Homo sapiens: one gene and its partners. The protein of the gene in region 2 interacts with the protein of the main gene of each other region in a pairwise test. Each region holds a gene or a part of one and is shown on either strand. Other genes may lie near its edges.

Region 1 (3,500 bases), on a different chromosome or scaffold from region 2:
ACAGCCCTCAAGGGTGACTTCCTCCTCTCAACCTCAGGGCAGGTCCAGATCTCACCCCAGCCACACCTCCCACACCCAGGTCTCACCGGTGTGGGACAAGCTGGGCAGTTTGAGACCCCGGGTCCCTATTGGCCGGAGTTGATGTAGCTGGTCCAGCCTGAGGTTCTCAAGGCGGCGAAGAGTGGACAGACCAGTGCCAGCAATGCAAGGTCCCTCGTCCAAGCTGGAGAGGTCTTCAGTGCTGCCCCCTGCATTGCCAGTCATTTCCACACCACTGTCTGTATTGGCTGCACTCCCTGCCGGGGAGTGGTCACTGCTGCAGGATGACTGGGCCCCAGGGCTTGGCTGTGGCTTCTGTGGAGAAGATGAGGTCTGAGGGCAACACCCTTCCCCACAGCTCCTTCAACTTGATGAGTGGCTGAAGCCTGTGTCCCAGTGACTGCTGGGGTTCCAAGGAAGCTTGTAAGTGTAGAAAGGGCTAAGCAGGTAAGAGATGGGGGAGCAAACTGAATGTGAGACGTTTGATGAGAAGAACCTAGGCTGGAGCACGGACTGGCTGGACTCAAATTCTTGCTCTTAGTTCTATGACCTTGGGCTATTTCTCTATGCCTGAGTTTCTTCAACTGAAAATGGGAACAGTGAGTCCCTTTATCATGAAGTTGCTGTGAGGAGTACATGAAATTATACATGTAAAAGGCTTGGAACATATACTAAGTGCTATTTAAGAAAGAGTTGCCGGGTGCAGTGGCTCACGCCTGTAATCCCAGCACTTTGGGAGGCCGAGGTGGGCAGATCACGAGGTCAGGAGATCAAGACCACCCTGGTTAACACAGTGAAACCCCATGTCTACTAAAAATACAAAAAAATTAGCCCGGCGTGGTGGCAGGCGCCTGTAGTCCCAGCTACTCAGGAGGCTGAGGCAGAATGGCGTGAACCTGGGAGGCGGAGGTTGCAGTGAGCCGAGATCATGCCACTGCACTCCAGCCTGGGCAACAGAGCGAGACTCCGTCTGAAAAAAAAAGAAAGAGTTTGGGTTGGATGCATTGGCTCATCCCAGCACTGTGGGAAGCTGAGGTGGGAGGATCGCTCAAGGCCAGGAGTTTGAGACCAGCCTGGTCAACATAGCAAGACTCGATCTCTAAAAAGAAGAAAAATTAGCCAGGCATGATGGGGTGTGCCTGTAGTGATCACTTGAGCCCAGAAGTTTGAGGCTGCAGTGAGCTATGATTATGCCACTACACTCCAGCCTGGGCGACAGAGCAAGACTCTGTCAGAAAGAAAGAGAGAAAGAGAGAGAGAGAGAAAGAAAGAAAGGAAGAAAGGAAAGAAGGAAAGAAGGAAGGAAGGAGAGAGAGAAAGAGAGTGAGAGAGTGAGACAGAAAGATTCTAAAACCTCTAGATTTGGGGAAGCCCAAAGAGCAACACTAAGACAAGAGACAGGCAGACTGGTCACAGAAGAGTGACTTCTATAGGAGGGAATGGATGGGTTGGGAAGTAACTAGAAAGATGTCCACAGGGTGGGCTGGGGTATGGAGGTGAGGGTTGCCTGGGCTCTCTCACCATGGCACCCTCTGGCACAGTCAGTCTGCTTTCCTCCCTGATGGGACCTCCTTCCCGCTCCCTCTTGGGCTCCACTGTAGAAATGGATGGTGCCCGAGGCAGGGGGCCATCCCCACGGTGCCGTTTGGTCACATGGGCGTCAGGACCATGCACTGTCTTGACATGTTTTCGCAGCGAGCTAGGATCTGTATAGCGTTTGGTGCAGCCAGGGAGCTTACATACATACGGCTTCTGTTGAGTGGAGAGTGGAGACAGAAGGCAAACGGATCAAAGCGGAAGAATGCAGAAGAAATGGGAAAAAGTGGTGACAACACAGGGGGCAGGGGAGGAGCACACAGCACCAAAGGAAGTAAGGAGGATGGAGGCCTCCGGTGGGAGTCAAAGATGCAGAGATTAAGTGGAGGGTTAGGAAAACTGACAGCCTGGGAAAGATGAGGGGGTGAACCCAGGGCTGTGAGGTCCCATAAATCCAGGGGTTGGAGGGATCAGGGGTCTCCTCTAGATGGAATCTTTTAGGTTAGCCTTTTGGCTGGTTAGAGGTTAGAGGTAGGAGGAGGAGTGGTTAAGTGGAAATTCTGGGTTTCAGAAAAGCCTTTTCTGGGCGAATTATGTGGGGAGGGGGACTCACCTCTGTGGAGTGGGTGCTGGGCTAAGGGATTTCTTATGGGGGAATCTCCCTGGTAGGTGGCTTCTCAAGAGGGGAGGGTCGCTTAGTTAGGGCATTCACCTCATTGGAATGGGTCCGATTCTGGTGCTTGGCTCGGTCACTGGCATTGCTGAAGGCTTTACTGCAGCCCTCGTGCTCACACATGTATGGCTTCTCACCCGTGTGTGACCGCAGGTGCGTCTTCAGGTTTTCGAGGCGTGAGTATGACTTCCGGCACCCTTCAAACTGGGGGACATGCAGGGGTCAAAGGATAGTTCTCAGACAGAGGACATGGAGATGGAAGGAACCCTCAATCTCCAACAGGACACACATCAGAGAATATAACTCAAGATGAAAGGCACTGGGGCTTCGAGAGAATTCCCAAAACTAGGGGACAAGGGCAGGCAAGAACTTGGAGAAGGGAAGCAGTTGGAGGCACTCTCCCTTTGGGAATATAAAGATGCTAGAGCATCTTCTGACCAAGCCAGGGCAGATTTCTCTGCATGGGGATCTTAGGCTGTCCCAAGATGGGGTCATCTTGGGGGAACGGGCTGTTGTCCTTGATGCAGGGTTTATCCATTAGGCAGAGTAGTAGGCACAGTACTGAAGGCCAACAATACTTTAAGAGGCCCACGAACATGTTTTAATGTCTTTTTTAAAAAAAATTTTTTTTTTGAGGCGGAGTTTTGCTCTGTCGCCCAGGCTGGAGTGCAGTGGCGCCATCTCAGCTCACTGCAACCTCCACCTCCTTGGTTCAAGTGATTCTTCTGCCTCATCCTCCCAAGTAGCAGGGACTACAGGCGCCCATCACCACGCCCAGCTAATTTTTATATTTTTTAGTAGAGACAGGGTTTCACCAATATTGGCCAAGCTGGTCTCGAACTCCTGACCTTGTGATCTGCCTGGCTCAGCCTCCCAAAGTGCTGGGATTACAGGTGTGAGCCACCGTGCCTGGCCTGTTTTAATGTCTTTTAAAATCAAGGGGAAAAAAATGAGCTTTTAGGTCCAAGAGTGTTTTAATATATATCATCATATTCATCTTTATGCCAACACAGTCACACAAACATTATTTTTAATATTTGTTTATGGAAGAAAGGACTTATAAAAGCAAAAGTCTGCCTTGGGCCCTACCTTGAAGGAGAGCCCTGATTTAGGAAGAGACCCTGGACTTGGGACACTGGTGCCTCACCGTGCACTTGTGTGGCTTCTCGCCAGTGTGTCTGCGCATGTGAACCACCAGCATGTACTGGGCTTTGAAGGGCCTCAGCTCCCTGGAGCAGCCCCCCCAGTGGCA
Region 2 (5,451 bases):
CAGGCCTGATTTTGGGAGACAGAGGGGGCTGTGCAGAGGAGCAGAGACAGGATATCTCAGCAAGAAGATAAAAGCGCTGGGCTTGATGACTGTTTTGAAATGGAACCATGGCCACTGAATGCCCCGTCCAAGCCTGAGGCTTTTGGAGGATGGGCAGGGATGCTACCACAAGTGTTAGGAGGTCGGCTCTGGGTGCTTTTCTTCAATCTGGCCTCTCTCCTGGCTTCTGACCCTCTGCCTCCCCTGCTTCTCATCACCACCTTCTGCTCAGCACCTTACTTGTCCTGCCTCACTCTGGTCTCATTCATCCCTCTCCATCTTAATCTTTTTGTCACTTCCTTTTTCACCCCTAACACAGCTCCCTAGGCCATTAATACCTGTCTCTTAGCCCTGAGACCTCTTTCTCATCCTCCAACACCTCCCTCCCCCACTTCTTCTTTCTTTTTTGTGAAAATGCTAGTTCATGAGCTTCCTAGTAGAGATACCTCCTGTGAAGGCCTCATAACAGCCTCTCTTTATATTATACCTTGATTCTCCAGGCCTTACTTTTTTAAGCAAACTAAAGTCCATCCAGGCACTACATGGACAATTAACCTGTACCACCAGGTGATCCCTTCAGGACCCATGCAGGAATCTGGGAAAGCAGAGAGGAAATAGAGGTGAGAACATCGAGGCCAGCATGCCTAGAGCTCCCAGATCCCTAAGGGACAAATTTTCCAGGTGCCTTAATATACACAGGGAGCATTCTCTGTCACCACAGGGCCACTCCATTCCAATATACTTGGGAAGCACCTGTGACTGTCAGGACTCAGACATAGGCTCCTGGCCAAGGGAGCAGGGAAGACAGGGACACATAAGGAATGCAAGAAGACAAAAGCAAAAAGGAACACAGCCGCAATGTCGAGATTAGTATCCAAATATTATTATGCAAACAGAGGAGATAGCAATAGCAGCAAATTGTGTGCCTTTTACACCTCCATTCCCACAGCTATTTCATTTATTTTTATACACTGCATTTGCTGATTTTAAGTTCTTAGAACAGGTACTTGAATTTTACAAGTATGCTTTTACGCCATAGCTCTTACGATTAAATATATGAAATCAGCCTCAGGCATTAGACAAATGGAGAGCCTTAACACACATAAATGAAACAGTGGAAGCACATACTTTTCACAGACTTGGCCACTATTTTCCTATACTATGATTTCTCTCTACTGCAGACATTAGCTGGCTAGTAGCAAAGGGGTGTAATTATAGTGGCCACATTTATTGAATGCTTACTATGTACCAGCAGTTAAGCACTTACATGGATTACCTTTTAGACTTTATAAAAACCTCACAAAGCAAGTAGTACTGTGAGCTTTGACTTATAGTTGAGAAAACTGAACATGAGAGAGGTTTAAAAAAACATCTCAGAAGGTACAACTGTAAAGTGGTGCATTTTTTATCACATGCATTCTGCCTCTAAAGCCCAGATCCATTACCATTACCTATTGCTCTGGTTGGCAGATCACACAGGTTCTAGGCTTGGCTCAGGTACAGACTTGCTCTGTGTTCCATCTATTTACAATAAATAATGTCAATGTCCTCCAGGAAAAAAAAAACACTGAGAACACACCTGTAGTTGGACAAGATTGAATTTATTGACTCATTGCAACAAGTGAGAACATAAAGCATGGGAAAGTGTAAGGTACCTTGAAAAGTTATTACAGGATTTGGGCTCATGTTAGGTAAGGACACGGGAGTAAATCTATTGAATATCTTAATAAATCTTATCTAGAAGGTAGGAAGAACAGAGTGACCCAAAAGTTGTTAAAAAAAAAAAAATCAACTAGGTTTTTTGGTTAAAAAAAAAAAATCAACCAGGGTCAGGGGCCGTTGGATCATTTTTGTGATTTAGACAACGTTCTTGTCGGAGTCCAAACATTATTAAGTGGTCTTGTTTCTGCTTTGATCCATCAAAGTCACAGAGTGGCCTTGTCTCATATTGTGTTTTGATATTACCGATGTTCAACCGAACACCAAGGCCTAGCTGACAACGCCAGTCTCTGCTGCTTTTCCTTTGCTTAATAACAACAAGCAGTCTCAGCACACTGGCTGTGTACCACGGACTGCTCTTAGACTGTACAAGTATTAAACTCAATTTTAATCTTCTCAAGAAACTCTATGACATAGGTACTAATTTTATAACAAGGAAACAGGCCGAGAGGTTAACTGGCTTACCTGAGGTCACCCCGCTGAAAAACGGTGGAGACAGATTGAGAACGCAGGCACCTTAGCGCCCAGCTCAGGCTCCTCACCACCACACTAGACTGCCCCTCAGGAACCAAGAGTTCTTTCAGAGGTAGAGAAGCAGAGCAAGCTCTTGAGCCTGCCTCCTGAAACCCTGCCTTTGCTTCTCCTTTCAGCTCCAAGACTGCCCTGCGCACTGGGAGCAGCGATACCCAGGTGGATGAAGTAAAGTCAATACCAGCCAACAGTCACCTGGTGAACCACCTCAATTGCCCCATGTGCAGCCGGCTGCGCCTGCACTCATTCATGCTGCCCTGCAACCACAGCCTGTGCGAGAAGTGCCTGCGGCAGCTGCAGAAGCACGCCGAGGTCACCGAGAACTTCTTCATCCTCATCTGCCCAGTGTGCGACCGCTCGCACTGCATGCCCTACAGCAACAAGATGCAGCTGCCCGAGAACTACCTGCACGGGCGTCTCACCAAGCGCTACATGCAGGAGCACGGCTACCTCAAGTGGCGCTTTGACCGCTCCTCCGGGCCCATCCTCTGCCAGGTCTGCCGCAACAAGCGCATCGCTTACAAGCGCTGCATCACCTGCCGCCTCAACCTGTGCAACGACTGCCTCAAGGCCTTCCACTCGGATGTGGCCATGCAAGACCACGTCTTTGTGGACACCAGCGCCGAGGAACAGGACGAGAAGATCTGCATCCACCACCCATCCAGCCGCATCATCGAGTACTGCCGCAATGACAACAAATTGCTCTGCACCTTCTGCAAGTTCTCTTTCCACAATGGCCACGACACCATTAGCCTCATCGACGCCTGCTCCGAGAGGGCCGCCTCACTCTTCAGCGCCATCGCCAAGTTCAAAGCAGGTCCTCCCCTTTTCCACTCCTTCAGCCTAACTTCTAGTTCAGGAACACATGGGGAAGATGGCGTGGGGTAATCTGTTAAGTGAGTGCCTTAACAGATTCCACCTAGTGGAGCAATCAAGGCACCAGGAAACACTGTGCTACCCTGCAAGTCACTATCCTGGTGTCCGCTCCTGGCAACCACCACCAGCCACTTAACTTCCCCGTGCCTTGCTTTTCTCACCTATGAAACGGGAATAGTAGTGACCCCCTCACTGGGTTGCCATGAGGATTAAGTGAGTTCCTCTATGTAAAGCATGCAAAAAGTCATATGACAAGTGCATAAAGATTCTATAATCTTGATTATAATCTTCATGTCCTCAGGTCTCATTTTCTCCTTTGGAAAATGAAGACTTTGATCCTATAGTATACTGACGTTCTGTGACGTTCTAAGATGTTCTGTCACTGTTGGATCTCTTTGGTTTTCCTAAATATGCAGGGGGAGATAATTAAGTCAGTGCTGAGAATTATCTCAATGTTAAATTTCCCTCCATGAATTTTTTCCAAAACTTGCAGATGCCAAAGTAAATAAACTGGCAGCAAACATATAACAACAGGGACAACTCTTAACTAGCCAATAGCATTCTAGTCAACAGCTTATTTTTCCTCTGCATGCTTGTTCATGGTGATTTGGTTGTTTTATATTGTTACATATAATATTGCTTTAAGTGAAATAATATTTCAATGATGGTTTCAGTGATGGAAACAAGCATAAGAGTATTTCACAGGATTCAGCAAAGAGCCCATAATTTCTGGTTTCAGGGACAAAACCAAGTATAATAATATTTCACAGGATTCAACAAAGAGCCCCATAATTTCTGGGTATGTCTCTACCTGGTCAGACATGAGAATCCAAAAGATCCCTTTAGTGCCCTTTACCCCCAGGAATAGTTCTTTGTATAAAGGTCCACTTTACTCAGGCCTGTGGAGCACATTTTGTCTAATCTCAATAATGCTACAGTACAGGCATTAAAATGTCCTCCATGGATAAGACAACTGTGGTTCAAAAAAAAAATTAGGACAGGGAGCTAATAAGTGGCAGATGCAGTCTATTTGACTCCAGTGCCTATCATTAATTCCACAATATTCATTTGACAATCTACTTTGTGCTAAGCAGTGACCAGAATCTGAAGATGAAGAGATTGAAGGGGAGGGAAGGGGAACCACCACTACCATCCATGGTCTGTTTCCTTAAGGAGTGGCCTACAGTCAGTTACCAAAGTGCACCAGATCAACCCAGGCCTTTCTCTTTGTCAGATCTGTTAGTCTCCATCATTCAGATAGGCCTACACATTTGGGAGGGAGGCAGCTTTTCCTTGACCTGCACAGAAAGGTCCCATTGGATGTAAAGGTGGGTCAGAAACAGGCTTTGCTAATGACCACATCACCCCGGACCTCTCAGTAGCTTCAGGAATACCTTAATTTTTCTCAATGGCCACATACCTGGAAACCTTGCTTGTCAATTGACATTTATTTAATTTTGGAACCACCACCAGGGAAGACTTCATATTAAAGGAACCCTGCAGGAACCACATTACCAAGAAAATGGTAGAACTGTTGGTTCCAAAAGGGTTTTCTGAAGGTGGGACTCACTGCCTCCCTAGGCCAGGGCTTGGCTGGATTCTTTGGGTCCTCAGCATGGTGAAGGCACTGCCGCCTACAACCTACTGTGCCTTCCATCCCTCTGTAGAGAACCTCGTCCTTAATACAGGAGAAACTTAGGATAGTTTTCTGAGTCCAGGGCACCTAAAATTTGAGCAGACAACAAAGCTCAATTCAAGGTGGGGGGAAAATGCCTGTCCAAATTCCAGGAAACCCAGCAGTTGGAAAGGGAAAAAGGGATAATTGGTAAATTAGATATTAGCTGTAAGTAAAGAATTTAACCTTTCATCCTTGCTGAAGAAACAGACACACAAAAATTTTTTAACCAGGGTTCAAACTTGTTCGTGAGCATTTGATTCACTTTTCTGGGAGGTACCATAAATTGGCATTCTAAACAGATCTCCAGGTTATTCAAAAGCAAGTGATCTGGGAATACACATTGAGAAACTGGGGGACCTAGGGAGAAGATCCATTCTAGAAGCTTTACTAAAAACTGATGCCCCTGTCCCATCCACATAGAGGTGCAGGCTCAGCAAGATGGAATTTTAAAAAACTCCTCATGTGATTCTATGGTGCAGCCAAGGTCGAGAACCACTGAAATAAAGGGAGCTCAAAAGTTTAGGTCCCTGCCACTCAAAGTATGGTTCAAGGACCAGTAGCATTGGCATCACCTGAGAGCTTGTTAGAAATGCAGAATCTCAGGACCC
Region 3 (2,566 bases), on a different chromosome or scaffold from region 2:
GCCCCACTCCCAGAGATTTTGATTCATTAGGTTTGGTTTGGGGCCTAAGAATGTGCATTTTAATAGGCAATTGCAAGAGATTCTATTGTGTATGACGCATGGGCCACACTTTGAAAAATGCTACTCTAGGAACTGTGGTAAGAAGATGAGATGCGCTGTGCTGGTCAGTTTACTACCAGTGGTCATTCTGGGCTTGGCATATGCTATTCCCACTTCTACCCCTCTTCATGAACATTGTCTTTCCTTTTGTCTATTCCATTAGACCATAAGCTTCTTGGATACAAGGCATGTAGCTTGTTCATCACTAATCAGGCAGCACCTGTCAACTGGAGGTCCCTTGATAAACAATTCCTGAATGACTGAATAGATGAGATTTCTATGGATAAGGTTTTGCTTAGGTTGAGCTTTGTTTCCCTTGTGCAGGTTCCAAAATCTTGCTTATCTGTGTACGCTAATAAACATGCACTAACGAACAAATCAGGGAGCAGGGCAGTCTGCTATGCCAGGAAAAATTAGTTTATTGACAACAGTGAGCAACACATTGCAAAAGATGATGGTGACAGTTTGAGCAGTAAAAACCATCAGGTTGTAGAATGTGTTTGCAAAGTCCACCCCAGGAATTCTTAAAGGTCGATTTACTATCCATAATGACTAAGGCTGATGTAGACACCTGAAAATGTGGGTGAGGGTGGTAATGGACGTCTGCTTACACCAGGCTGTATCCAGATGGTAAAAATCACTATTGTCACCTTGTGAAAAAAAATCTATTTTTCTTTTAACTTTTTAAAAACACCAGATAGATGTTTAGGCTTCAGTGTATTGCTCTGTGGGGGCATTGGGGTCTCAGCAGGAGGAGGTCCTGCAGGTGGTGCTGCAAGGGGTCGGCTGGCCGCAGGGGGGCCGGCAGCAGGGGGACTGCACAGACACAGGCTGGCAGCAGGTGGTGGCCCAGCAGCAGGGCCTGCACACCACAGCCGTGCACGACGAGGGGCAGCAGGTGATGGGGCGGCAGCAGCCTTCCTGCAGGGAGCAGGGGTCGCAGCACACCGGGCGGCGGCAGGGCTCGCAGATGGGGCGCGTGCAGCGGGGCACGCAGGTCACGGGGCGGCACACGGTGGTCTGGCAGGTCACGGGGCGGCAGCAGCAGGGGTCGCGGCAGCAGCAGGGCTGGCAGCAGCCTCCCCCGTAGCTCAGGGAGGACAAGGTGGAGCCGCAGCAGGAGCCGGTCATGGTGGTGTCTGAGGCTGGTGTGGGTTGGGCTATTGAGAGGAGCTGGATGTTCTCAGGTGTGAATGTCCTCCTCCCCCTCTGGGCCCTTTATATACCCTGGCTGGGAGCTGATGACCCTTCAACATATGATCATTTTCTTGTGCATCTTCTGGCCAATTAAGTGAAGATTTAGCATTGACTAATGGTATTTTGGTCACTCTTCACCTCATACATATTCATGTACATACACCACAAATATTCGCTCATTTTCTTGTATTGTTTATCCTCACTAAATTTAGACATTGGATTCACTTCTGATTAATTTTCCTTTGAAATATTCCTAACCCATAAGAGAGAAAAGAATGTGTTTTCTAAATTAGTGTCTAATCGCTCTGCCCTTTGGCGCTAAAATTAGCATGTTCTTCCTTGTCTTCAAAGGCTCCCATCACCGGCACCCAAGCAGTGACTTGCCTTATTAATGCACATGGGCATGATGGTAGCAGGTTAATTGCATCATCCTAGTGCAGACCAGTAGTCATCTGCTTCACAGATAGCTCCTTCCATGACTCACTTAAAGATAGGCTTGTGGTTTTTCATATGAGCAGGGACCACACGAAATGCAGATCCCTGGCCACTGGTGTGGTCACTCTCCCCTGACTAGGACCTGGGCTTTCCTGCCTTGGTTTTGATGTGTCATCATTCACCTGGAATGCCCTCCTCATCCTTCCAATCCAAACTCAACTTCTACCTTGATTGTAAAACCCTCTTCAAGGATCCATTGCAATTATTATATTTGTAATTTGTTTGGAATTAGTCGTTGCATCTGTAGAGTCCGGGAAGGGATTGCGGAGAATATGTAGGCCTATGCCCTCACTCTACAGCTGAGGTCCTGAGAGTGTACCAAGGTCACACAATGAGGTCACCATATGAGGTCTGAGATCCAGGTCTCCTCAGTCTGCAGTAAGTAGCCTCTACTATGAGTTTTATGCTCATTGGATTCAGTAAACCATGGTCTTTAGACAGGAAAGAAAACATATATTAAAGTAGAAGCCCAGACTTCATGCCACTATGCAATATATCCATGTAACAATGCTGCATTTGAACCTCTTACATTTATACATATTAAACACAGATTTAAAAAAATAAGTAATGAACTTTCCTTTCAGCAGCAAGGTTAGAAGTGGTACTGGAAGAGAATTAGGGAAATGTTTTGCCCAGATGACACATTGTCATCCTGGACCCCCATTGACTCCACTAAGTATGACAATGTGTCTGAGAGCTAGAGAAGGGACCTGGAGAAAGCTAACATGATGCAGGGTTTATTAGTGGAACTTACATACAAGGGTGGTCCAGTGGT
Region 4 (3,500 bases), on a different chromosome or scaffold from region 2:
TCACTGCATTAGCTTATTTTTTCCTCATTTTTAGTTCTTTCAAGAATCATTAATTCCATGCTTGAAAATGTCTGAATGGCACTAATGAGGATAAGTTTTTTAATCTTTTGAATTCTTAATGTGAACTAACAGGAAAAAAATCTCAGAGCTAACAAATTAGAGTTGGTAAAGGGCCGATTTATAAGTGTCTCACAATTTATGGGTGTAAATCAAAATGTTAACTAGTACAGTCATAAGCTGTTTGTACAATCCTTAGGCTTTAACTTCTTTGGAATTGGCAAGCTAGGCATTTGACATGTATTTATATAACTGTACGGTTGTAGTTATTAATGATCTTGTCATTATTGTTGATAATGAAAAAAGATCTTCACTATAATTTCTTCGTATAATTCTTATAATGAAACAAGTAAATACTATTAACTAGAAAAAATCTAGTCTGCAGTTAGCCCACACACATCCAAACTTATCTCTGCCAGCAGCAAAAGAAAGCTTGAAAACCTTTGCCAAAATCAGAAGTTTCCCATTTAGATTACATAAGTTTCTGTTGAATTGAAATATATTTAGATAACATTTAAACCATTGATCTTTTGGTATTAACTCTCAGATGTTTCATAACTTTCTGTCTTTTTAGTATTCAGGGATATTATGTAAAGTTTTTCCTGCACTGAATCTCTGTGCTTGAGCCTACTGAAATGATCCCCCTAAGCCATGCTGCCTGCCTTTTGTGTTTAATGTTTTTTTACACTGACTTATCTCCTTCGTGTGTTCACCTCTCCCCCAGAGGAAGACAACAGAACAGTATAATTTACAGTTTGTACAGGTTAAAAAAAAAAAAAAAGGTTGTAAGGTGGGGGGGTGATATTTTGTTTTAAAATATTTGGGTAAGGAAAATTTTGTCTTTAATATTAATTCTGTAATGCTTGACCAGGCATGGTGGCTCAAACCTGTAATCCCAGCACTTTGGGAGACCGAGGCGGGCGGATCGCATGAGGCCAGGAGTTCGAGACCAGCCTGGCCAACATGGTGAAACCCCGTATCTACTAGAGATACAAAAAATTACCCAGGCGTGGTGGTGCATGCCTGTAGTTCCCGCTACTCCAGAGGCTGAGGCAGAATTGCTTGAACCCGGAAAGTGGAGGTTGCAGTTAGCTGAGACCACACCACTGCACTCCATCCAGCCTGGGCAACAGAGCAAGACTCAGTCTCAAAAAAAAAAAAAAAAAAAAAAAACATAAAAATAAAAATATAATCCTTGACTGTTACCCAGTATTTTTACATTATTTATATTAATATCATTTGATCTTCACAGAGAATTCTATGGAGTACTGTAATATTATCCTCAGAGGGAAACTGAGGCATCTATGGATAGACATGCAGTGTGGCTTAGTGATTAAAGCTCTGCATGCTGGAAGCTGACACCTGGGTTCCAATCCTGACGCAGCCCTCGCCTCTCTCCGACCTTGTGCACGTTGCCTAACCTATCTGTGTTTTGGTTTCCTTATCTGAAAAATGAGAATAGTCTCTACCTCATAGGGTGTTGTGAGAATCAAATGAGTCAAAACATGCTAAGTGCTTTAAATAGTGCCTGACACAGAGTAAATGCCCAGTAAATATTAATTCAATATTTTTAAAATGTAGAAGTGTGTTACGGCTAGAAGGGGATTTTGCTGAAAGTGGAATCTAAACCTTGCAATTTTACATCCTGTTCTGTTCTATCACTTGGTAGAGAGTAACAATTACATCCCGATTTTAGTTTACACATGTTAACTAGCAGTTTAGCATTCATCAATAAACTATAGATACTTAAAAGCTTTAGCTATCAGAAGATCAGTCAAATTATAGGTAAATACTGAATACATTTAAAGAAAATGTAGAGGGTTTTTATTATCTTTAGTAACTCAACTAGGTTAAAATGAAGAAATTTGAATTTAAACAATACAGTAGTTTCCCCTTATTTGTGGTTTCAGTTACCCACATGGTACAGTATGATAAAATATTTTGAGAGACCACTTTCATGTACGTTTTATCACAGCATATTGTTATATTGTTCTATTTTATCATCAGTTATTGTTGCTAATGTCTTACTACACCTAATTTATAAATTAAAGTTTATCACAGGTATGATAGTATATATAGGGCTTGGTACTATCTGAAGTTGCAGGCATCCGTGGGAGTCTTGGAACGTATCCCCCTTGGGTAAAGGGAGGCTCTTGCTAACTTATTTATGTCCTTACTTATTGTGCAGAGGACTTGAAACAGTAAACACTGATGTCTGTATGGTGATTATAGTTCACAATTATTTTCATTTCTATTATCGTAATTGATCCATACACAAACTCATGTGAGATAGGAGGGCAAGTATTAATATCCCTAATTCACAGATGTAAGAAAAGTTGCAAGAATTTTGGGTGACTTTCTTAAGGGAAGTAAGTGACCAAGTTAAAACTGAAAGCAGAACCCAAATATGTGCATATTGATTCAAAACACAAAGTTGATTTAAAAATTAGCACGCAAAACATAAATCTAAAATATTCTTACTATTCAGCAAATTTTTATTGAGTAGCTACTATATACCAGGCATTGTTTTAGGTGCTAGAAATATAAAAAAGGAGTAAAATAAAGTCCCTGTCCTTGTAGAGTTTGTATTTTTTGTTTCTTTTGTAATTGCAGCAAATTGAAAATCCCTAGAAAATGGGGTTTACTGCTTAATTGGCTTCTACTTAACCGAGACTATATCTCTAATTATTTTCTTTGATTCATAAGGTACTTTAAGGATTTTTTTTCTTAGTGCCTCAGGGTTACTAAAAAGATCAACTGTAATGGCTTTTGATATAAATGATAAAAAAACTGATTCAAGTGTCCCATTTCAAATGAATAATTTGTTTTTTAACTGTTTTTCATTCATCAAATGCAGAATTTACCAAAACTGAATTATCTTAGATTTCTAGTTATTTATATATTAACTTTTTGTTTATTCAGAATCATTTTTCTGTTTGTTGGAATATTTCTAAGAGCCTTGGAAAATCTCGAGTAAAATTTTAAATGAATTTGTATAGTGTTCTGCCTCTTTCCAAAGGTATTTCTCAAAATTGGAATTGTTTTATTATTGAAGTTGAATGACTTCAGGGAACTCTAAAATGCAAGATGGAAGCTTCTGTTTGGTTTTTTCTTTCCCTTTGGTAAGGTCTTTTGCTTCCCATCCCCTTGACCCACCTTTGTGCTGTCTGTTGTCCAGTCTGCTCTCCTGATCCCTAAAGATGTTTCTTATCTAGGCTACCATTTATGTGGGTAAAAGACAAGGTAGAAAATACTCTTCTGTATCTTGTATCAAGGGTTAATCTAATATCTTCATCACTTTGTTTTGAGATATTTTGGAATGTTATCAACAATTATTATAGATGGAGCATGTATGTCTTAGGTTTGGTGTTAACTGTTTAACATGCATTATCTTATTCAATCCTCACAGCAGTTATAAAATGTAGGTGTTTTAGAGGTAAGCA

What was found. Proteins that work in one complex are often made in the same cells at the same time.
Region 1: the proteins of TRIM42 (region 2) and GLI1 interact in binary tests that used the Homo sapiens proteins (3 or more experiments, as listed by UniProt).
Region 3: the proteins of TRIM42 (region 2) and KRTAP2-4 interact in binary tests that used the Homo sapiens proteins (3 or more experiments, as listed by UniProt).
Region 4: the proteins of TRIM42 (region 2) and LONRF1 interact in binary tests that used the Homo sapiens proteins (3 or more experiments, as listed by UniProt).

What each region holds. Positions count from the first base shown.
Region 1 is NC_000012.12:57,466,285-57,469,784, reverse strand, and holds part of GLI1 (zinc finger protein GLI1), read right to left. Parts: coding exon 3,396-3,500; intron 2,453-3,395; coding exon 2,288-2,452; intron 1,792-2,287; coding exon 1,561-1,791; intron 355-1,560; coding exon 87-354; intron 1-86. UniProt on the Homo sapiens protein: Acts as a transcriptional activator. Binds to the DNA consensus sequence 5'-GACCACCCA-3'. Regulates the transcription of specific genes during normal development.
Region 2 is NC_000003.12:140,680,054-140,685,504, forward strand, and holds part of TRIM42 (tripartite motif-containing protein 42), read left to right. Parts: intron 1-2,408; coding exon 2,409-3,106; intron 3,107-5,451.
Region 3 is NC_000017.11:41,064,616-41,067,181, forward strand, and holds KRTAP2-4 (keratin-associated protein 2-4), read right to left. Parts: upstream 1,265-2,566; 5' UTR 1,231-1,264; coding exon 844-1,230; 3' UTR 501-843; downstream 1-500.
Region 4 is NC_000008.11:12,749,027-12,752,526, reverse strand, and holds part of LONRF1 (LON peptidase N-terminal domain and RING finger protein 1), read left to right. Parts: intron 1-3,500.